Homo sapiens: one gene and its partners. The protein of the gene in region 2 purifies or fractionates together with the protein of the main gene of each other region. This does not show direct contact. Each region holds a gene or a part of one and is shown on either strand. Other genes may lie near its edges.

Region 1 (7,083 bases), on a different chromosome or scaffold from region 2:
ACAGCAGCCAGGGTGGCCTTCGCGCCTAGGGACAGCTGCCTGAAGATGGCCATTTTCTCTGCTCCTAGTAGGCTCCCCCACCAGTTCTGTGCTGGTGGACTCTGGAAATGAGTTCCTTAGAAAGGACAGTGGCCAAGGAGAGGTTTCCAGGTCAACTCCGCCTGCAACCAGGAACCAGCATCAGCTTTGTGGGATATTAGAGTGTCCTTGTACCCATTCAAAACTCAAAGGCCACTTACATCTGCCCAACCCACCTTGAATCCAAGCTACTCAAATACCAGTCAGTTGCTAGCTATACTTTATTATTCAAAAAGAAACTCACAGCATTGTGACATGATGGGCAGTTTTCATTTTCTTACCACATGTTCTATACGTTTAAAGTTTCTCTACAGTAAGCATGTACTTGTTTTATAAAAACATTCCAAATCAGCGGTATTCAAAGTGTGGTCTGGAGAGAGCCCTTCAGGGGTCCAATTAGTCAAAACTATTTTTATTATAATTCCAAGCCATTACTGCCTTTTCCATTCTCACTCTGTCCTGAGGGGGTGGAGTCTTCCAGAGGCTATGTGACATGTGATATGGCAACAGATTTAATGCAGAAATAAACATGAAAATTTGACTGTCTTCTATTAAGAGACATTGAAAGAGATTTGCAGAAATGTAAAACAGTGCAACTCTTCACCCTAAAATTTGGGGAGAAATACTATTGTTTTTCAAATATATATATTGTTTATTAACGTGTAATGATGTAGTATTTCTTAACAAATAGTTTAAAATATTCTCTAGGGCTGGGCACAGTGGCTGACGCCTATAATTCCAGCACTTTGGGAGGCCGAGGCAGGCAGATTACCTGAGGTCAGGAGTTCAAGACCAGCCTGGCCAACATGGTAAAACCCTGTCTCTACTAAAAATTCAAAAATTAGCCAGGCATGGTGGTGGATGCATGTAATCCCAGCTACTCGGGAGGCTGAGGCAGGAGAATCACTTGAACCTGGGAGGTGGAAGTTGTAGTGAGCCAAGATCGTGCCACTGCACTCCAGCCTGGGCAAAAGAGCGAGACTCTGTCTCAAAAAAAAAAAAAAAAAAAAAAAAAGGAATATTCTCTTAATTTCTAGGACAGCTAAAATTTAGTTAAAATTTGAGAACCGCTGGGTCACGAGGTCAGGAGATCGAGACCATCCTGGCTAACATGGTGAAACCCCGTCTCTACTAAAAATACAAAAAAAGAAAAAAATTAGTCGGGTGTGATGGCGGGCGCCTGTAGTCCCAGCTACTCGGGAGGCTGAGGCAGGAGAATGGCGTGAACCCTAAAGAAATGTAAACAAGGAGATAATGGAAAGCTAGACTGCTGGTATCTTTCTTTAGCTGTGGGCACAGAAGCCCAAGAGGGACACCTAGGCACCTGAAATGAGAATTCCTGGGGTGATGCCAGCCTCCCTGTGTGGGCCTCAGGTATGGCAGCCACAGGGCATCCACCCTGACCCAATGACGCTGCACAAGACTGATGAGCTCACATCAGACAGATTGACCCTGTCCACCTGTTCCTGGTTCATAAATCCTTCTCTCTCTCCCTACCCCCACTCCCAGATACTGGTTAAGATCTGCCTTTCCCCTAGCCCCTTACCCTGCCACTGTTCTCCTGAACTGTGCCCCAGTTCCACCTTCCCCAGTGGTTCTCACAGCTGGCTAGCTCTGACTCCTAAGGTCCTACGGGCCTTCTGGACAAGAAAACTCTGTCTACATACTGGGGTAGGGGAACCACAGACGGGGTGAAGAGGGAGCAGCAAATAATCTGTGCTGACTTTTTCCCAAAATGAAAACATTTTCAGCAGCTGTTTTCCAAATACTTAAGATGTTCAATCTTGGTTGTAGATAAATGTACCACTTTTCTCTGCCCTAGGCACGTTATTGAAAGCGTTATTAAAGGGTGTAACTTACAAGTCAACGGTGTCAAATGCTACCAGCTCTTACTTAAAGCATACTGCAGGCTCAGCCCACCTACACCCTGGAGGAACCAAAGTTGGTCCGCGGAACGTGCAGAGGAGCAGCTTGCAACTACCCACTCTCCTTTCCGCAGGTGTGATGCAAACCTCCCCAGGCAGCGCTTTGGAGCCCCTCAGCCAGTCGCCTCAGCTCGGACGCAGCGAGTGAAGCTGTCCTTCCTCTCCCACCAACTGTGCACGCCCCGCACCTCACCTATTCGCCTCGCCAGCCCTGCCCCGATCAACGATGGCATCCCCCGGCAGCCTGCCTATTCCCCCCCTCAACCTGGACCCCCAAACGCCGAAGGAAAACGGTCCCACAAATACAAAGAAAAACCCAAGCCAAAGGGCAGGCGACGGGGAGTGGTGAGAAAGGAACAAGATGCACGAAGAGGGAGAGCACCCAGAGGGGAAATAACCCAATGTTCCCACTGCAAGGGCCTCTCCTGACCCCATTTTTCTCCTTCCGGAGCGCTCCGCAGAGCACCAACTGGGAAAGCGAGGGCGCCCCAAACCAGAGCCGGAGGCACCCTCTAACCCGCGCAACTTGGAATCCCCTCCCGGAAAGCCAACTTAGGAAATGTTTACACGCACCTCGTCTCAACACCTCGTTACAGATGGGGAAGTGGATCCAAGCGCAAAGGGCGGCCGGAGCGGAACGCACAAGCGACCGAGCTGCCTGGAAGGACGCGCGCCCCGCCCGGCCCGCCCCCGACGGGAAGGCCGGTCCACTGCCTGCGTTCCGCCGGCCGCGAGCCTGCTGGGGGGCACTTCGGGGCTCAGGCTCCCCGCCCTGCGGGACCGCGGGTGGCTGCGACCCCAGCCCGGTTCCCCGCCAGCCTGTCCCCTAGCAATGCCTCCCCGTACCCGGGTCCCGCAGACTTACGCGCAAGCCGCGCGTAGGGCCCAGAAGCAGCAGAACCAGCAACAGAGGGAGGATGCGAACCAGGAACCCCGGCATGACCACCAGCCTCCCGGCTCTGCAGTCGGCGCCCAGGCCGGCCGCTTCGCGTCACTTGACTAAGGACCCACGGCCTGGCACCGCCCCTCGTCGGCCCAGCAGCCAGCCCTCGCGCCTGCTCAGCCCCGCGCCCCGCCCCGCTGTGGCCGAGCCGGGCGGGTGGGGGCGGCTAGGAGGCTGCGCGCCGCCGCGTGACTCCAGGATAGTACTATCTGGGTTTTGCAGGCGTCTTCCCTGGGAAGGGACCCTTTGGAACTGCAGTCCGGAGGGCCTGCTTTCAGCAGCTTGATAACGCGCCTCGGGGATTGGACATGAATCATGGTCTCCCTGTTCCCTGGCTGCCTTGAGAGAGCAGAAGAGGGAAATTGTTAATCATTAAACCTAAACGCCCTAGATGGAATCCGCGTCTCATATACGGGCTCTTTGAATAACTCTAAGCCGGGGGTTAGCAAAATGTGGTCGGTCCCTGGAGCCACTGTATCAACTCACCTGGAACTTGTTAGAATGAAAATCCTGCTCACGCCTGTAATCCCAGCACTTTGGGAGGCCGAGGCGGGCGGATCGCCTGAGGTCAGGAGTTCCAGACCAGCCTGACCAGTATGATGAAACCCCGTCTCTACTAAAAATACAAAAATTAGCCGGGCGTGGTGGCAGGCGCCTGTAATCCCAGCTACTGAGGAGGCTGAGACAGGAGAATCGCTTGAACCCGGGAGGTGGAGGTTGCAGTAAACCGAGATCGAGCCATTGCGCTCCAGCCTGGGCAATAAGAGCGAAATTCCGTATCAAAAAAAAATTTTCTTTTTTAAAATAACCTTAGTTTATGCCTTGGTGTTCCAAAAAGCCTTTTTACATTGTATAACAAAGTAGCCAAAATTCTATTTGTTCACTCCTTTCTCCTTTCCTACCGGACATGTCCTTGAGAGATTGAGAAAGTATCAGAAAGGACATTTCATTGAGAGATTGAGAAAGTATCAGTTACTGGCTTTTCTTAGGTTTTTGTTTTTTGGTTTGGGGGGTTGTTTTTTTGTTTTGTTTTTGTGTTTTTTGAGACAGGGTCTCACTCTGTCACCCAGGCTGGAGTGGGGCGCAATCACGGCTTACTGCAGCTTTGGCCTCCTGGGCTCAAGCAATTCTCCCGTCTCAGCCTACCAAGTGGCTGGGACTACAGGCGTGCGCCACCACACCCGGCTAATTTTTGTATTTTTTGTAGAGACAGGGTCTCACCACGTTTCCCAGGCAGGTCTTGAAGTTCTGGGATCAAGCAATCTACCTGCCTGGAACTCCCAAAATGCTGGAATTACAGACATGAGCCACCGTGCCTGGCTTCTTTTCATGCCTGTAGTACCAATTCCGTGTCCTTGCACTGTGAAGTCCTTTCCAAGCTCTGCAATTCTAGTTCAGTATTAAAGAACAAGGGCTCTGGAGGAAGTACACTTGAGTTGGAATTCCAGCTCTGCCACTTACTGTCTGTGTAACTGTGGGCAAATTACTTAACCTCTCTGAGCTTAGTTTCTTTGTTGGTAAAGCAGGGCTAATAATATCAAATTCACTGGATAATTGGGGAAATTACCAGAGATGATGACGATAAGAAGCTTGGTATATACAGGATGTTAGTGGGACAGTTGATGAAATCAGAATTAGACTTGTAGGTTAGATTAGTACCATGCATCAATGTTAATTTCCTTTTTGGGGGGGTGGGGGGACAGAGTCTCACTCTGTCACCCAGGCTGGAGTGCAGTGGCACAATCTCGGCTCACTGCAACCTCCGCCTCCCAGGTTCAAGTGATTCTCCCACCTCAGCCTCCAAAGTAGCTGGGATTACAGGCACCCACCACTAGGCTTGGCTAATTTTTGTATTTTTAGTAGAGATGGGGTATCACCATGTTAGCCAGGCTGGTCTGGAGCTCTTGACCTCAAGTGATTTGCCCACCTCGGCCTCCCAAAGTGCTGGGATTACAGGCATGAGCCACTGTGCCCGGCCGCATCAATGTTAACTTTCTGATTTTGATAATGGTACACGGTCTAAATATTAAATAATAGTTTTGTATTAGTGTATTGATTTGGGTAACGGTAATGGTAATTTTGGTAATGGTTATATAAAAGAACATCCTTGTTTTTTAGGAAACAAAAGGGCATCATCTTTGCAACTGATTCTCAAACAGTTCACAAAAAAAAATGGAGAGAGAGAGAAAGAGAGAGAGAGAGAGGGAGAGAAATGGTATTCCAGGCATGAAAAGAACGTGAGAAAGAAAAGCAAATGTGGTAAAATGTTAACATTTGGAAAATCAATGAAGGAATTATTTTTACTCTTTTTTTCAACTTTTTGTTTCTAAGCCTGAAATTATTGCAGAACGAAGTTTAAAAACAAAACAAAACAAAAATCCTTAACACATGGCAGATTCAACTTCTTCTACCTTCTTTCCTACTCTGTACACTCAGGGTTATCATATGCAATAGGTATTTTTAACTGAACTGAGGTAGAAAGGGTTTAGAGCAGGAGTTGGCAAACTAAGGGCAGAGGATCAAATCTGGCCTGCTGCCTGTTTTTCTTTTTCTTTTTAAAATTCTTTTTACTAAGAATCGGCACAATTTGCTGCCAGTTTTTCTATGGCCTGCCACCTAAAAATGGTTTTTACATTTTTAAATGAATGAAAAAAAATCAAAAGAATAATATTTTATGACATTTGAAAATGTTGTAAGTTTCCTGTGTCAGTGTCCATAAATAAAGTTTTGTGGGGTTGGTTTTTGTTTTTTTTGTTTTGTTTTGTTTTTTTAGACACAGTCTTGCTCTGTCACCCAGGCTGGAGTGCAGTGGTGCAATCATAGCTCACAGCAGCCTTGAACTCCTGAGCTGAAGCAGTCGTCCCATGTCGGCCTCCTGAGTAGCTAAGTAGCTGGGACTACAGGCGAGTGCCACCATGCCTGAATAATTTTTTTTTTTCTAAAGACAAGATCTTGCCTTGTTGCCAGGGTTGGTCTTGAACTCCTGGCCTCAAGTAATCTGCCCACTTTGGCTGCCAAAGTGCCAAGATTACACATAAATAGTTTTCTTAGAACACAGCCACCTATAATCCTCTGCATATTGCATATGGTTGCTTTCACGCTACAACGGTAGAATGGAGTAGTTGCAACACAGATCTTAGGACCTACAAAACTGAATATATTTATGTTCTAGCCCTTTACAGTATAAGCTTGCCAAAGGAATATAGATTGTAGATTGTTTCTGAGATTTTTAGTATTTGACTATGTTTGTAGTTGAAATGGCAATAGTAGTAATAGCCATTGTTGTGCTGAATGCTTTACCAGTATGTGTCACTATTCCTCCCAATCCGAGCTGCATGCTCTTATCCACATTTCACAGATGAGAAAGCTGAGACCCAGAGGAGTTAAATGACTTGCCAGTAGCCACAGAGCTGGGGAGCAGTAGAGTCTCTAAAGTTACATTGCCTGACGTTAGGGCCTGAGTTATTTTCACAAGGCTATGCTTCTGCTCATAGTGTACTGTTTGGTTCCCATTTAAATGCACAGACAGAGTGTGCTGGATGCAAAGCCCCCTGCATACTGGAGAATATGAAGGGACCATGAGAAGGCTGTCACCCTGCAGGCACTCATCTCTAAACATGGTACATGCTCTAATATAGACTAATACTTCTCAGAGTCTGATCCTTAGACCAGTGCTGTGCAATAAGTACAGAAATTCAGCCTAGGCACTTAGAAACTTGCAGCAATTTGAGAAAGTAAGTCTATCTGTTGAATCTAATAATGAACAAAATCATTACGCATCTATTTTTATTTCATTGTTCTAGTAATGTTTTATTTTTATTTTTTTAGACAGAGTTTCGCTTTTATTGCCCAGGCTGGAGTGCAATGGCACGATCTTGGCTCACTGCAACCTCTGCCTCCTGGATTCAAGCGATTCTCCTGCCTCAGCCTCCTGAGTAGCTGGGATTACAGGCATGTGCCACCATGCCCCGCTACTTTTATATTTTCAGTAGAGATGGGGTTTCTCCATGTTGGTCAGGCTGGTCTCAAACTCCTGACCTCAGGTGATCCACCTGCCTCGGCCTCCCAAAGTGCTGGGATTACAGGCGTGAGCCACCACGCCTGGCCTCTAGTAGTTTTTGTTTGTTTGTTTTTGAG
Region 2 (5,064 bases):
CATGCACCACCACCACATCCAGCTTTTTGTGTTTTTGTTGTTTTTTGGGGGGTTTTTTTTTTGGTATTTTTTTAAGTAGAGATGGGGTTTTGCCACGTTGGCCAGGCTGGTCTCAAACTTCTGGCCTCAAGTGATCTGCCCGCCTCAGCCTCCCAAAGTGCTAAGATTATAGGCGTGAGCCACCGCGCCCAGCCTCAGTTAAGTCTTAACTTGAGTATGGTCCTAGCTGTGCTGTGGAGTACTAGGGGGTGAGGCCACTCATAAGGGGAACATCGGCTGCTAGGGAAAGCCAGTTGTAGGCCCCCAAGAGGTGAAAGCAAAGAATGAAGCATTGCTTGGGGTTCCATAACATACCTGGGGAGGGCAGCCTGGTCAAAGAGGGCATTTCTGCCTTCAACTGGCAAGGCCTGCACCTCTAGCTGTAGGGGCATAAAGGGAGGTGTGAGGCCTGAGGTGTCACCCACTGTCCCTTAGAGGCCCTCCTGGGCCACCCCGGAAAGTAGGAACCCAAGAACACAACACACCACCAAGCTCTCAAAACTCAGTTTTATTGACTTCCAGCATTTCCCCCTGGATCTGAGCTCAGCCCAGCTGGTTTTGGTTCGTCTCTGAGGCTCAGTGTTACAGCGACTGGCTCCACCACTCCCCTCCCTGGCCACTGGGCTCCCCAGGCAGGGAGGAGGAGAGGCAGTTCATCTGTGATGTTGGAAAGAATGGGCAGCAGGGTCAGAGGCCAAAGAAAGCCATACAAGCAGCGGCATGCCTGGAGCTGCCATCACATGCCAAGCCCCACCACACACACGCCCCCGCGGGTGGCCTTGCCCTCGAAGCTCTCTGCCAGCCCACACTCCTCAGCTTTCTGGGGCCACACCCTGCTCAGGCAGACATGCCACTCGCCCTGGCTTGTTCCTGGGACCCCAGGCTGCCCAAGGGAAAGGTACCGCTCCCAGGTGCTGCGCGGCTCTGCCCTGCCCACTCTAACCCTGGGGCTAGCAAGACGTGTCAGGGGAACCAAGGCTCAGATCATTCCCCCTTCATCTACAACCCTGCCAGCCCTACAGGGATAAATCAAAAGACAAAATCTCCCCATCTCACAGCGAGTGACAAGCCGACCTGGGCTACTACATGTCCCAAGATGCACAGCTCCGTAACCATACACCACCTCCCCCAAGCGGGATCTATCAGAAATGAGGCCGGGCACACCGCACTCTGGGATTTGTAGTCCCCAGGAGCCAGCACCAAACACCCAAGGAAGAGAGTGCACAGGCTAAGACTACTGCCACCTCCCACCCGGCCCCCACCCGCCACCCAGGCCCCGGCTCTACACTCAGCATGGGTGAGGGGGAGAAATGGAGGGTCCCCTCCCAGCGCATGGGGGAAGGCGCTGTCCTGTTGGAACTGTGCAGCGATTCTGGAACCCGGCATCCAGCTCAGAACACATCTGGGGAGAGAGCAGGGGCGGGGTGACAGGAGAGAGCGTCAGCGGCAAGCTGTGGAGGATGGGGCTCAGCATGCAGACCTGGGCTGGCCGCATGGCCTCTCCCTGAGCCCTGATTTGTGGTAGGGAAGCAGTATGGGTGCAGTCCCCTCCTAGGCCTCCCTCTGGGGTCCCCCGGTCCTATCCCACCTCTTCAGGGTGAGCCAGCCTCACCTCTGCCTAGTCCTGAGGGTGAGGGCAGGCTGAGGCAACGAGAGGGAGGAGGAGTGGGCTCCAGTTCTGAATCTGGACAGCTGAGAGGCTCCCGCCCCACCCGGCTAGCCTCCCCAGAAGATCTCACAGCCCTACCGGCCCCAGCATCTTCCTCGCCACATTGAGGCCTTCTCGGGGAAGGAAGGAAGAAGGGAGTCCTAGCCAGACGGCAGTGAAAGCAAGCGATGCGGCCCGCAGGGAGTTGCAGAGAGAATGGGAGGGAGGAGAAGCAACACCAGAAGAGAAGCAACAGAGACGGTCAGAGCGCAACATGGCACAGAAACCAGGGTTGGGGGTCTGCAGCTGGTCCAGGAGAGCAGGAGGCTCCACTCTGCCTGCACTGCTCTCCAGTGGAGCTGCCGGCTCCGGCTCAGACAACCCTAGGCCAAGTCCTCCTTCCTTGACACCATCAGCAACACAGGTGGCAGAGTACCAGGGCACAAAAGGCCCAGCCCAAACCACTAATGCCCCTTGGAGCTCCCCATCCAATAAATGCAACCTGGCTCCTCGGGCCCCTCCACTGCCCTGACACCCCCCACCCTGGGCTTCACCAGGGACCTATCAGCCCTGGGCTGAGCACAGCAAATCCCAAGTCCACACTGGGGTGTGGGGGGCCTGGGAGGGAAACTTGTGGAGGGAGCTTGGAGTTGGAAAGCAGTTCCTACAACTCAGGATACTCCCCTCTTCTCTTCCCACAGTGAGTCAGACCCCCCAGTCAAGATCTGGATCAGATCAGGTTGGGCCCGGTGTTCAGAGGATGAGGCAGCGAGAGGCCTTCTCCTCTGGGGATGGACTGCGTTTGGTTGCTTCACCCCTCGCACCCTCCTGGGTCCCCCCCAAGCCTGGATCTTGGTGCTGGGCCTTGGGCCGCCCCTGCCGTCGGTGCTGTGCCTCCCGCCCACCTGCGGGTTTCTTCCCAGCTGCCTCCATCTCTGACAGGCTGTAGGCCATGGCCAGCTGCAGGTCCTCATCCTCAGAGAGGTCGCTGTCCAAGGGGCATGAGGCAGGGGTCTGCTGGACCTGAGTGCCCCCAGACCTGGAAGTGACTGACGGCTGCTGCTCGCGACGGCTCAGCTCCAAGCCCAGTGCCAGGTCATCTGGGACACCTGCAAGAGTCACAGCCACCATGAGGCCCCAACCTGAGCCAGGGGTATTACTGCCAGGCTGCCTCACACAGTAACAACCCTGACCACTTAGAGTCTCTTATTTGGAATTGGCACACATGCATTTTGGCACCTAGGCTTGTGATTTTGAGCACAAGGAAGTATTCAGCTCTACCAGGTAGAAGCTCCTACCCTTAGGCAAGTCACTCAACATCCCTACCCCTCCCTTTCCTCATCTAGAAAGTGGGAATGATGGCCGGGCACAGTGGCTCATGCCTGTAATCCCAACACTTTGGGAGGCCGAGGTAGAAGGATCACTTGAGCCTAGAAGTTCGAGACTAGCCTAGGCAACATAGTGAGACCCCATCTCTACAAAATAGTTTAAAAATTAGCTGGGCATGGTAGCACACGCCTGTAGTCCCAGCTACACAGGGGGCTGAAGTGGGAGGACTGCTTGAGCCGAGGAGGTCGAGGCTGTAGTGAGCCATAATCGTGCTGGGCTGAGCACGACCCTGTTTCAAAAAAAGAAAAAAAAGAAAATGGGAATGATGATAGTGCCTTCATACTCAAATTGTTCCAATGATTAAATATGTCAGCCCATGTAAAGGGCTTGGTACGCAGTGCTGGGAGTCAGCAGGCGTGAAAGGTTAGCTGTGGTGACGGCCCTGCACAGCATGGTGTTGCAGGGGCAGTTCTGCTCCGGGAATCGTGCGTCCTGAGTTTGACTCCTGGCTCTACTCCTTACTTGGAAGGAAAGAGTCTTGGGCCTGGGCTACTTGGAAGTTAGGGTCATTTAACTATGCTGCAGCTCAGGCTCCCCAAATTAAAACTAAGTGGATACCATCTGCCCTGTGTACTCCCCCAGATGCTTGAAGAATACAGAGGATATCGTATATCTGGAAGTGCTTTAAAAATAGTAAAGTGCTTTGCAAATGTAAGGCACCCCACTCACAGTGACGGCGATGGCTTCGTGAGACTCCTTCACCCCCTTCCCGACATTGCCATCTCTGATCCTACCAGTCTGGCCTGTTGCCACTCCCTCCCAAGCCCTAAGTGAGTTCAGAGAGCAGCAGTTTGGGGAGGAGGCTGCTGAGGTTGGGGCTGGGGCTTCCTGCCAGGGGCTGGGTAGGGGAGCTGCTCCTCACCATTGATTGTGACTGACTTCAGCTGCCCATCCTCCTCCACTTCCACCCGCTCCTGCCCGTTCTCCATGATTCTGTGGGAGACAGCACAGTTCAGGCAACGAGCAGTGACAGAATCCTGCAGGCGCTGGTCCCAGTTCTGGCCACCGCAGTAGAGAGCGCAGACTGGGCCCTGCCCTCAAGGAGCCAACTTTCTATTTGAACACAGCTCCCCAGCAGACCTCTCACCCCTCTATGGCCCCAGAAGGAGCTCTCACCTGCGTGTGGTGATGCGGCGTCCTTGGACAAAGGTGGTAGATGTAGAAACAGAGCGAAAAGCACCAGCCCCAGGACTGAAGGAGAAAGATGAGGAGGAGAAATCTGGCATCGGGACAAGGGAGGAGGAGGAGAGGTGGTTAGAAGAAGACTGCGCTGCCTGTTGTGGTCACCGAGGCTCCAGGCCGCCTCGCAGGGCTGCTGGAGGCAGGGCTCCCAACACAGGAGACAGGCTTGGAAAAGCAACAAGCTCAAGCCAGGGGTTCCAGGAATCGGAGCTTGCAAACGTGGGAAGGGGCAGAACTTACCGGAGTGCCCAGGGAAGGAGGAAGAGAAGGTAAAGAAGGGGCCTGAGTGTCGGGAACCCCGGTTCTGAAGCTCTGAGAAGGGGCCCAGGTCATCTGCAACAAGTAAACAGATTAGCAGTCATCTGGTAATGACATTTCCCCTCAAAAGTGTGTGAGCCCAAGTCTGGAAGTATAAACCACTAAGCAACTGGGTAGGGTTTTTCTTTTCCGCTTTTTAGTTGGGCTTATTTATAAATTCCTTTTTAATGTTGAATTCGAAAACACTCACTGGTTAATTCTGTCCACAATAAAGAATAAAGGAAGGAAGGAGGGGGAAGAGGGATGGAGGACAGATGGCTCTTTCAGTACAGGCAAATCATCATGACGCGATGACAGGCAGACACAGCTAGGAGTCCAGCTCTGCCATGTGTTATGTGACTCTGGGCTATTAACTGTGCCTCAGTTTTCTCATCTGCAAATGGGGAGAAAATTGCCCACCTGTCAGGATTCACTAGAGACTTACGAAATGTAAAATATTTGGCACATATCTATCATTAAAAAATACCACTATCTGTTTTATAGGTAAT
Region 3 (5,762 bases), on a different chromosome or scaffold from region 2:
ATCCCTTTACAGTCATGAGGGCCTATCACGCACGCATCTCAGGACAGGTGAGACTTCATTATATCAGGTATTTTGTTGCTATTCTAAGTTATAAGGCAGTAATACAAACTTTCTTTCCACAGCTTTGTAAGCCTTGTGCCAAAAGAAACTTTTAAAACAGCTACAGCAAGATGAGTCTGACTATGGCTTAGTATCTTTCTCATTACAATAGGCACAGAGAAGAATGCAACAGGGCACAGGGGAAGAGATGCTAAATATACCAAGAATCTGTGGAAATATAAGCTGGGGCAAATCAGTGTAATCCTTGACTTTGCTCCTCACCATCAGGGCAAACTTGCCTTCTTCCCTCCTAAGCTCCAGTAAATAAACAGAACAGCTTTCACCAAAGTGGGTAGTATAGTCCTCAAATATCGGATAAATATATGCGTTTTTGTACCCCAGAAAAACTTTTCCTCCCTCTTCATCAACATAGTAAAATAAGTCAAACAAAATGAGAACACCAAATTTTGGGGGAATAAATTTTTATTTAACACTGCAAAGGAAAGAGAGAGAAAACAAGCAAAGATAGGTAGGACAGAAAGGAAGACAGCCAGATCCAGTGATTGACTTGGCATGAAAATGAGAAAATGCAGACAGACCTCAACATTCAACAACATCCATACAGCACTGCTGGAGGAAGAGGAAGATTTGTGCAGACCAAGAGCACCACAGACTACAACTGCCCAGCTTCATCTAAATACTTGTTAACCTCTTTGGTCATTTCTCTTTTTAAATAAATGCCCATAGCAGTATTTGGAGTCTTTTCTTTTCTCCTAAATCCACAAACTCTCTTCTTTCTCTTTGGACAGATGACCTCTTGTCATAGTTAAGCAGAGAGTGGGCAGGATATTCCTGATAGGAGGAACTACATGAATAAAGGGGTAAGAGCACAGAAATTTAGCTACAGCTCCATGGTGAGCCATTAAAAGGAAAGAGACACTTTACCTGTGCTCCTTGGCAAGGACCTGCCAAATGTGGGAGCTAAGGTTTGTGGGAACGGAAAGAGATATGGCTGAAGTAGATGAGTAAGACTCTTATTAGTGATAGTCTTGAACCTCAAACTAAGGATTTTAGACTGTATCCCATGGAGATAAAAGGACTAGCCATGGAGGCAAAAAGACCTGGATTCAAATTCTGGCTCTGCAACATACCAGCTATTTGTCATTGGGCAAATGAATTTTTTTTTTTTTTTTTTGAGACGGAGTCTCACTCTGTTGCCCAGGCTGGAGTGCAGTGGCATGATCTCAGCTCACTGCAACCTCCACCTCCCGGGTTCAAGCAATTCTCCTGCCTCAGTCTCCCAAGTAGCTGGGATTACAGGCATGCACCACCATGCCTGGCTAATTTTTGTGTTTTTGGTAGAGACGGGGTTTCACCATGTTGGCCAGGCTGGTCTCAAACTCCTGACCTCAAGTGATCCACCCGCCTCAGCCTCCCAAAGTGCTGGGATTACAGGCGTGAGCCACCTCACCCAGTGCAAATGAGGTTTTGAGATGCTATTTCTGTTTACCTATCTGTAAAAAGGGATATTGCCTATTGTATCTTCTCTTTCCACAGAATTGTTCTGAGAATCAAAATGAGAGTCTGGATTTGGGACCTAGAGCCATTTGAGTTCTGACTCCAAAGTCTCCAAAGCTTTCTCCACTACATCACATTCATCTTAATCTTTCTCTACCTGTTTTAAATAGTTAGTTCTGTGTTTCTAACTAAATAATAAACTCACATAGGTAGAGATGTCTTTTGTTTTTACTATTCAAATAATCTTCTGGAGCTACTCAACATTATACAATCACTGGAAGTCTCAGAAGATATATCCAACTATAGGAAAAGTTTCAGCCATTGTACTATACTAATTATAGTCCACATATAAAAATCTGTGACACATAATCACAGAAAGGAAACATCACTGCCCAAGTTTATGAAGACATTTAAGAGCATCAGATTACTAGCTCTGACTCAAACTAAGCGGAATATATACAAAGCAATCCCACTTTGTACATACCAACTGAGTCTTGCTTCTAAAGAGTTTATTTACTCTGCTTATCTCGAGACTTGGTTAAACAGAAACTTAAAATACTTGTGTCTTGGCTTTCAAAATGTGTTGATACAATTGCCTTCAAATAAGCCTACAAATTTTCATGCATAATAGGTGGTTTTCTGGACACGCATCTTAGCCCCAATCTGTATGAGTGATTCACAAACACGGGTTTTGAACCTGTGAGGCCATGAGGTTATCAGAAGGAATCTATATACCATAATCTTCAGCCTGAATAAATATCTTTCAAATATTTGTATATATTTCAATTGGATGTAGATTCTGGTGTGACTAATAAATTAACTTAAAAGCATTACTGAAATCATAGCAGCTTTTTGTTATGTATTCTTTAATCAAAAATACTAATAATATGGCTATCAAGTTGTTGGAAGGGAATCTAATAATTTGGGGGTTTTTGTTTTGAGACAGGGTCTCTCTCTGTTGCCCTGGAGTGCAGTGGCACAATCTTGGCTCACTACAACCTCTGCCTCCTTGGTTCAAACGATTCTCCCTCCTCAGCCTCCCAAGTAGCTGGGACTACAGGTGCATGCCACCACACCTGGCTAATTTTTGTATTTTTAGTAGACATGGTGTTTTATTGTGCTGCCCAGGCTGGTCTCAAACTCCTGACCTCAAGTGATCTGCCTGCCTCAGCCTTCCAAAATGCTGAGATTACAGGCATGAGCCACAATGCCCAGCCAAGAATCTAATAATTTTTGGATCTTGAAAATTGTATTTCTTATTAGAAAAAGTAAAGAATCACAGGCTTACATCCTATGATCACAGATCTAAGTGTTCTGGTTGAAAGAGGAAGAAGAGGCAACATACAAACTACACTTCTGTGGACACCAAGTGTAGTGTGGCAGGAAAACATAAAGTTTGCATGTATAAAACCTTAAAAGTTGAATGCCTACAATGTACTTGTCTGTGGCAGGTATGAGAGATCGAAACCTTACAATGTCAATGGGATCAGACAAGGGCTCTATTTTGATCCTGGAAAGCATCACCAGCTGTATACATTGTATTCTATGCATTCTATTTTAAACCCCTGGAGCAGCTCAGTGGCTCGCTGGCTGAATACTGAGACACTGACATTACTGCAGGCTAGGATTTCCCCCTATAGGACAGCCACTTGTGATACTTACCCCATCAAAGTTTTCCTCCATCTTACTGTGACAGAACCTACATGAGATTCATTCGGGAAATTCTCAACAAGAGGACTCTATCCTATAAGTCGTCCCCAATCCCCAGATCTCCAATGGATTATTCTTGTAAACAGCACTTTTACCTTCCGATCGCTCTACCACAGAGGCCAAAAAGGGTTTTCCCCTAACATCCAAATACCTATTCAGATACCAGCCCTGCTCCTTCTCTTAAAATCTGTCTTCTCACCTGGGCGTGGTGGCTAATGCCTGTAATCCCAGCACTTTGGGATGCTGAGGTCGGTGATCACTTGACATCAGGAGTTCGAGACCAGCCTGGGCAACATGGCAAAACCCCATCTCTACTAAAAATACAAAAATTAGCTGGGCATGGTGGCACGTGCCTGTAATCCCAGCTACTTGGGAGGCTGAGGCAAGAGAATCGCTTGAACCCAGGAGCGGGAGGTTGCAGTGACCTGAGATCACGCCACTGCACTCCAGCCTGGGCGAAAGAGTGAGATTGTGTCTCAAAAAAATAAAAATGTGTCTTCCACTTCTTAAACCCCAAAGCTGTTTTGTTGTTGTTGTCATTTAAAACAGACACAGACTATGCTTCCCTCCTGATTTATTAAGACCGACATATTTAATTTGCATTTCTTGAGGGAATAGCACCTGGAAACCAGGGAGAAAGAAGCTGAAGCATGCAGGTCATGAATTATTCAATTTGGTGTCAATAATTTGTCAGAAAAATTAAAAAAAATCAATAGATAACCGTATTGTAGTTCAACTGATTATAATATAGAAGCAACGGATAATGAACACCCTTTCCTCAAAGTCATTTATTCTCAACCTTTGGAAATGATTACGTTTTTACCTCCAGTGAATCCCTTCATCACAGAGAATAACAGGGTACCAGCCCAAGCCAACAGTGCCCCATACCAGAGAACTCAGGGAAACAAAGACCCTAAAGGTTATGTACAATGAGAGAATCAGACTGTGAGGCTCCAGCTCTCTTCTGTATCCCTGCTCACTTTACCTCAGTGCACACCATATCCCTTCTTCCTCCATTGTGAAATGTGCATACACGTGTTTGTCTGTGAATATATAAATATCTCTATTTACACATATATACATATATAAAAATGTGCAATACAAAGACATAAGCAAGGAGTTTTTCCTAATAACTATTTAATCAGAGACTGATTGGAGAAAAAACAAGTTCTTCCCCTCAAATTTTCCTTCTAACTTGAGAACCAATTCCTGGACCAATTCCTGCTCAAAGAAAACATTTAAGAAGCACCTGTCGGCTGGGAGTGCTAGCTCACACCTGTAATCCCAGCACTTTGGGAGGCCGAGGCGGGTGGTCACTTGAGGTCAGGAGTTTGAAAACAGCCTGACCAACATGGTGAACCACTTCTCATAGAGACACATTATTAACTTGGTGAAACTTAATTGGGATGAGGAGCACTCTGTATACATGTATCATTTCTGTTTTTCCTCATTGTGATGGTTAATCTTATGTGTCAACTTGACTAGGCCACATGATGCCCAGATATTTGGTCATACAGTATTCTGGGTGTGTCTGTGAAGGTGTTTTTGGAAGAGACTAACATTTCAGTCAGTAGACTGAATACAGCACATGGCCCTCCCTAATGTAAGTGGCCCTCATCCAATCAGTTGAAGGTCTGAATAGAACAAGTAAGGGAGAAGTCCTCCTGCCTGACTGCTTGAACTAAGACCTCAGTCTTTTCCTGCCTCTGAACTGGAACAGAAACATCAGCTCTTCTAGGGTATCCAAGCTGGCCTTCAGACTGGAACTACACCATCAGCTCTCCTGGATCTCTAGCTGGCCCACTGCAGATCTTGGGATTTCTCAAACTCCATTATTGTGTGAACCAATTCCTTATAATAAATCTCAGGCTGGGCATGGTGGCTCCCGTCTGTAATCCCAGCACTTTGGGAGGCCACGACTGGCAGATCACCTGAGGTCTAGAGTTCAAGACCAGCCTGGCCAACAAGGTAAAACCTTGTCTCTACTAAACATATAAAAAATTAGCTGGGCATGGTGGCAGGTGCCTGTAATCCCAGCTGCTTGGGAGGCTAAGGCAGAAGAATCGCTGGAACCCAGGAGGTGGAGGTTGCAGTGAGCTGAGATTGCACCACTGCACTCCAGCCTAGGCGACAGAGCAAGCCTCCATCTCAAAAAATAAATAAATAAATAAATAAATAAATAAATAATAATAATAATAATAATAAATCCCTGAAGAATCCTAACTCCTCAACATAAATTAACCTGGACATCTGAGGTGCCTGCCATTATAAGAAGAAACACAACAGATCCATTAAGTGGGACAGGTCTGGGAAACAGTAAAATGAGTCTCACATCCTCTATCCACCAGAGCAAAAAAAGTGAAGAAAACTTCATGTAACTTTGTCTGATGCTGTTTGCTATACTGTGTATAAAAAGGCAGACCCCTATCCAGTACTTTGTTTCCACCCTTTTTAAAGGTACTCAGATCCTTTCTAGTTCTCTAGGCATTGGTTCT

Evidence for each region.
Region 1: the proteins of DNAJB2 (region 2) and GLB1 purify together in Homo sapiens (affinity purification with mass spectrometry; 4 studies listed by BioGRID and IntAct, with this or other methods). This does not show direct contact.
Region 3: the proteins of DNAJB2 (region 2) and RNF115 purify together in Homo sapiens (affinity purification with mass spectrometry; 3 studies listed by BioGRID and IntAct, with this or other methods). This does not show direct contact.

What each region holds. Positions count from the first base shown.
Region 1 is NC_000003.12:33,094,143-33,101,225, forward strand, and holds the start of GLB1 (beta-galactosidase isoform a preproprotein), read right to left. Parts: upstream 3,005-7,083; 5' UTR 2,944-3,004; coding exon 2,869-2,943; exon of another isoform or gene 2,577-2,868; intron 162-2,576; exon of another isoform or gene 54-161; coding exon of another isoform or gene 1-53. Other genes in the region: TMPPE (transmembrane protein with metallophosphoesterase domain), read right to left, coding at 1-53.
Region 2 is NC_000002.12:219,282,364-219,287,427, reverse strand, and holds the end of DNAJB2 (dnaJ homolog subfamily B member 2), read right to left. Parts: intron 4,592-5,064; coding exon 4,499-4,591; intron 4,296-4,498; coding exon 4,193-4,295; intron 4,010-4,192; coding exon 3,939-4,009; intron 2,797-3,938; coding exon 2,441-2,796; 3' UTR 1,442-2,440; coding exon of another isoform or gene 1,431-1,441; 3' UTR 533-1,430; downstream 1-532. UniProt on the Homo sapiens protein: Functions as a co-chaperone, regulating the substrate binding and activating the ATPase activity of chaperones of the HSP70/heat shock protein 70 family. In parallel, also contributes to the ubiquitin-dependent proteasomal degradation of misfolded proteins.
Region 3 is NC_000001.11:145,738,364-145,744,125, forward strand, and holds the end of RNF115 (E3 ubiquitin-protein ligase RNF115), read right to left. Parts: 3' UTR 505-5,762; downstream 1-504. UniProt on the Homo sapiens protein: E3 ubiquitin-protein ligase that catalyzes the 'Lys-48'- and/or 'Lys-63'-linked polyubiquitination of various substrates and thereby plays a role in a number of signaling pathways including autophagy, innate immunity, cell proliferation and cell death.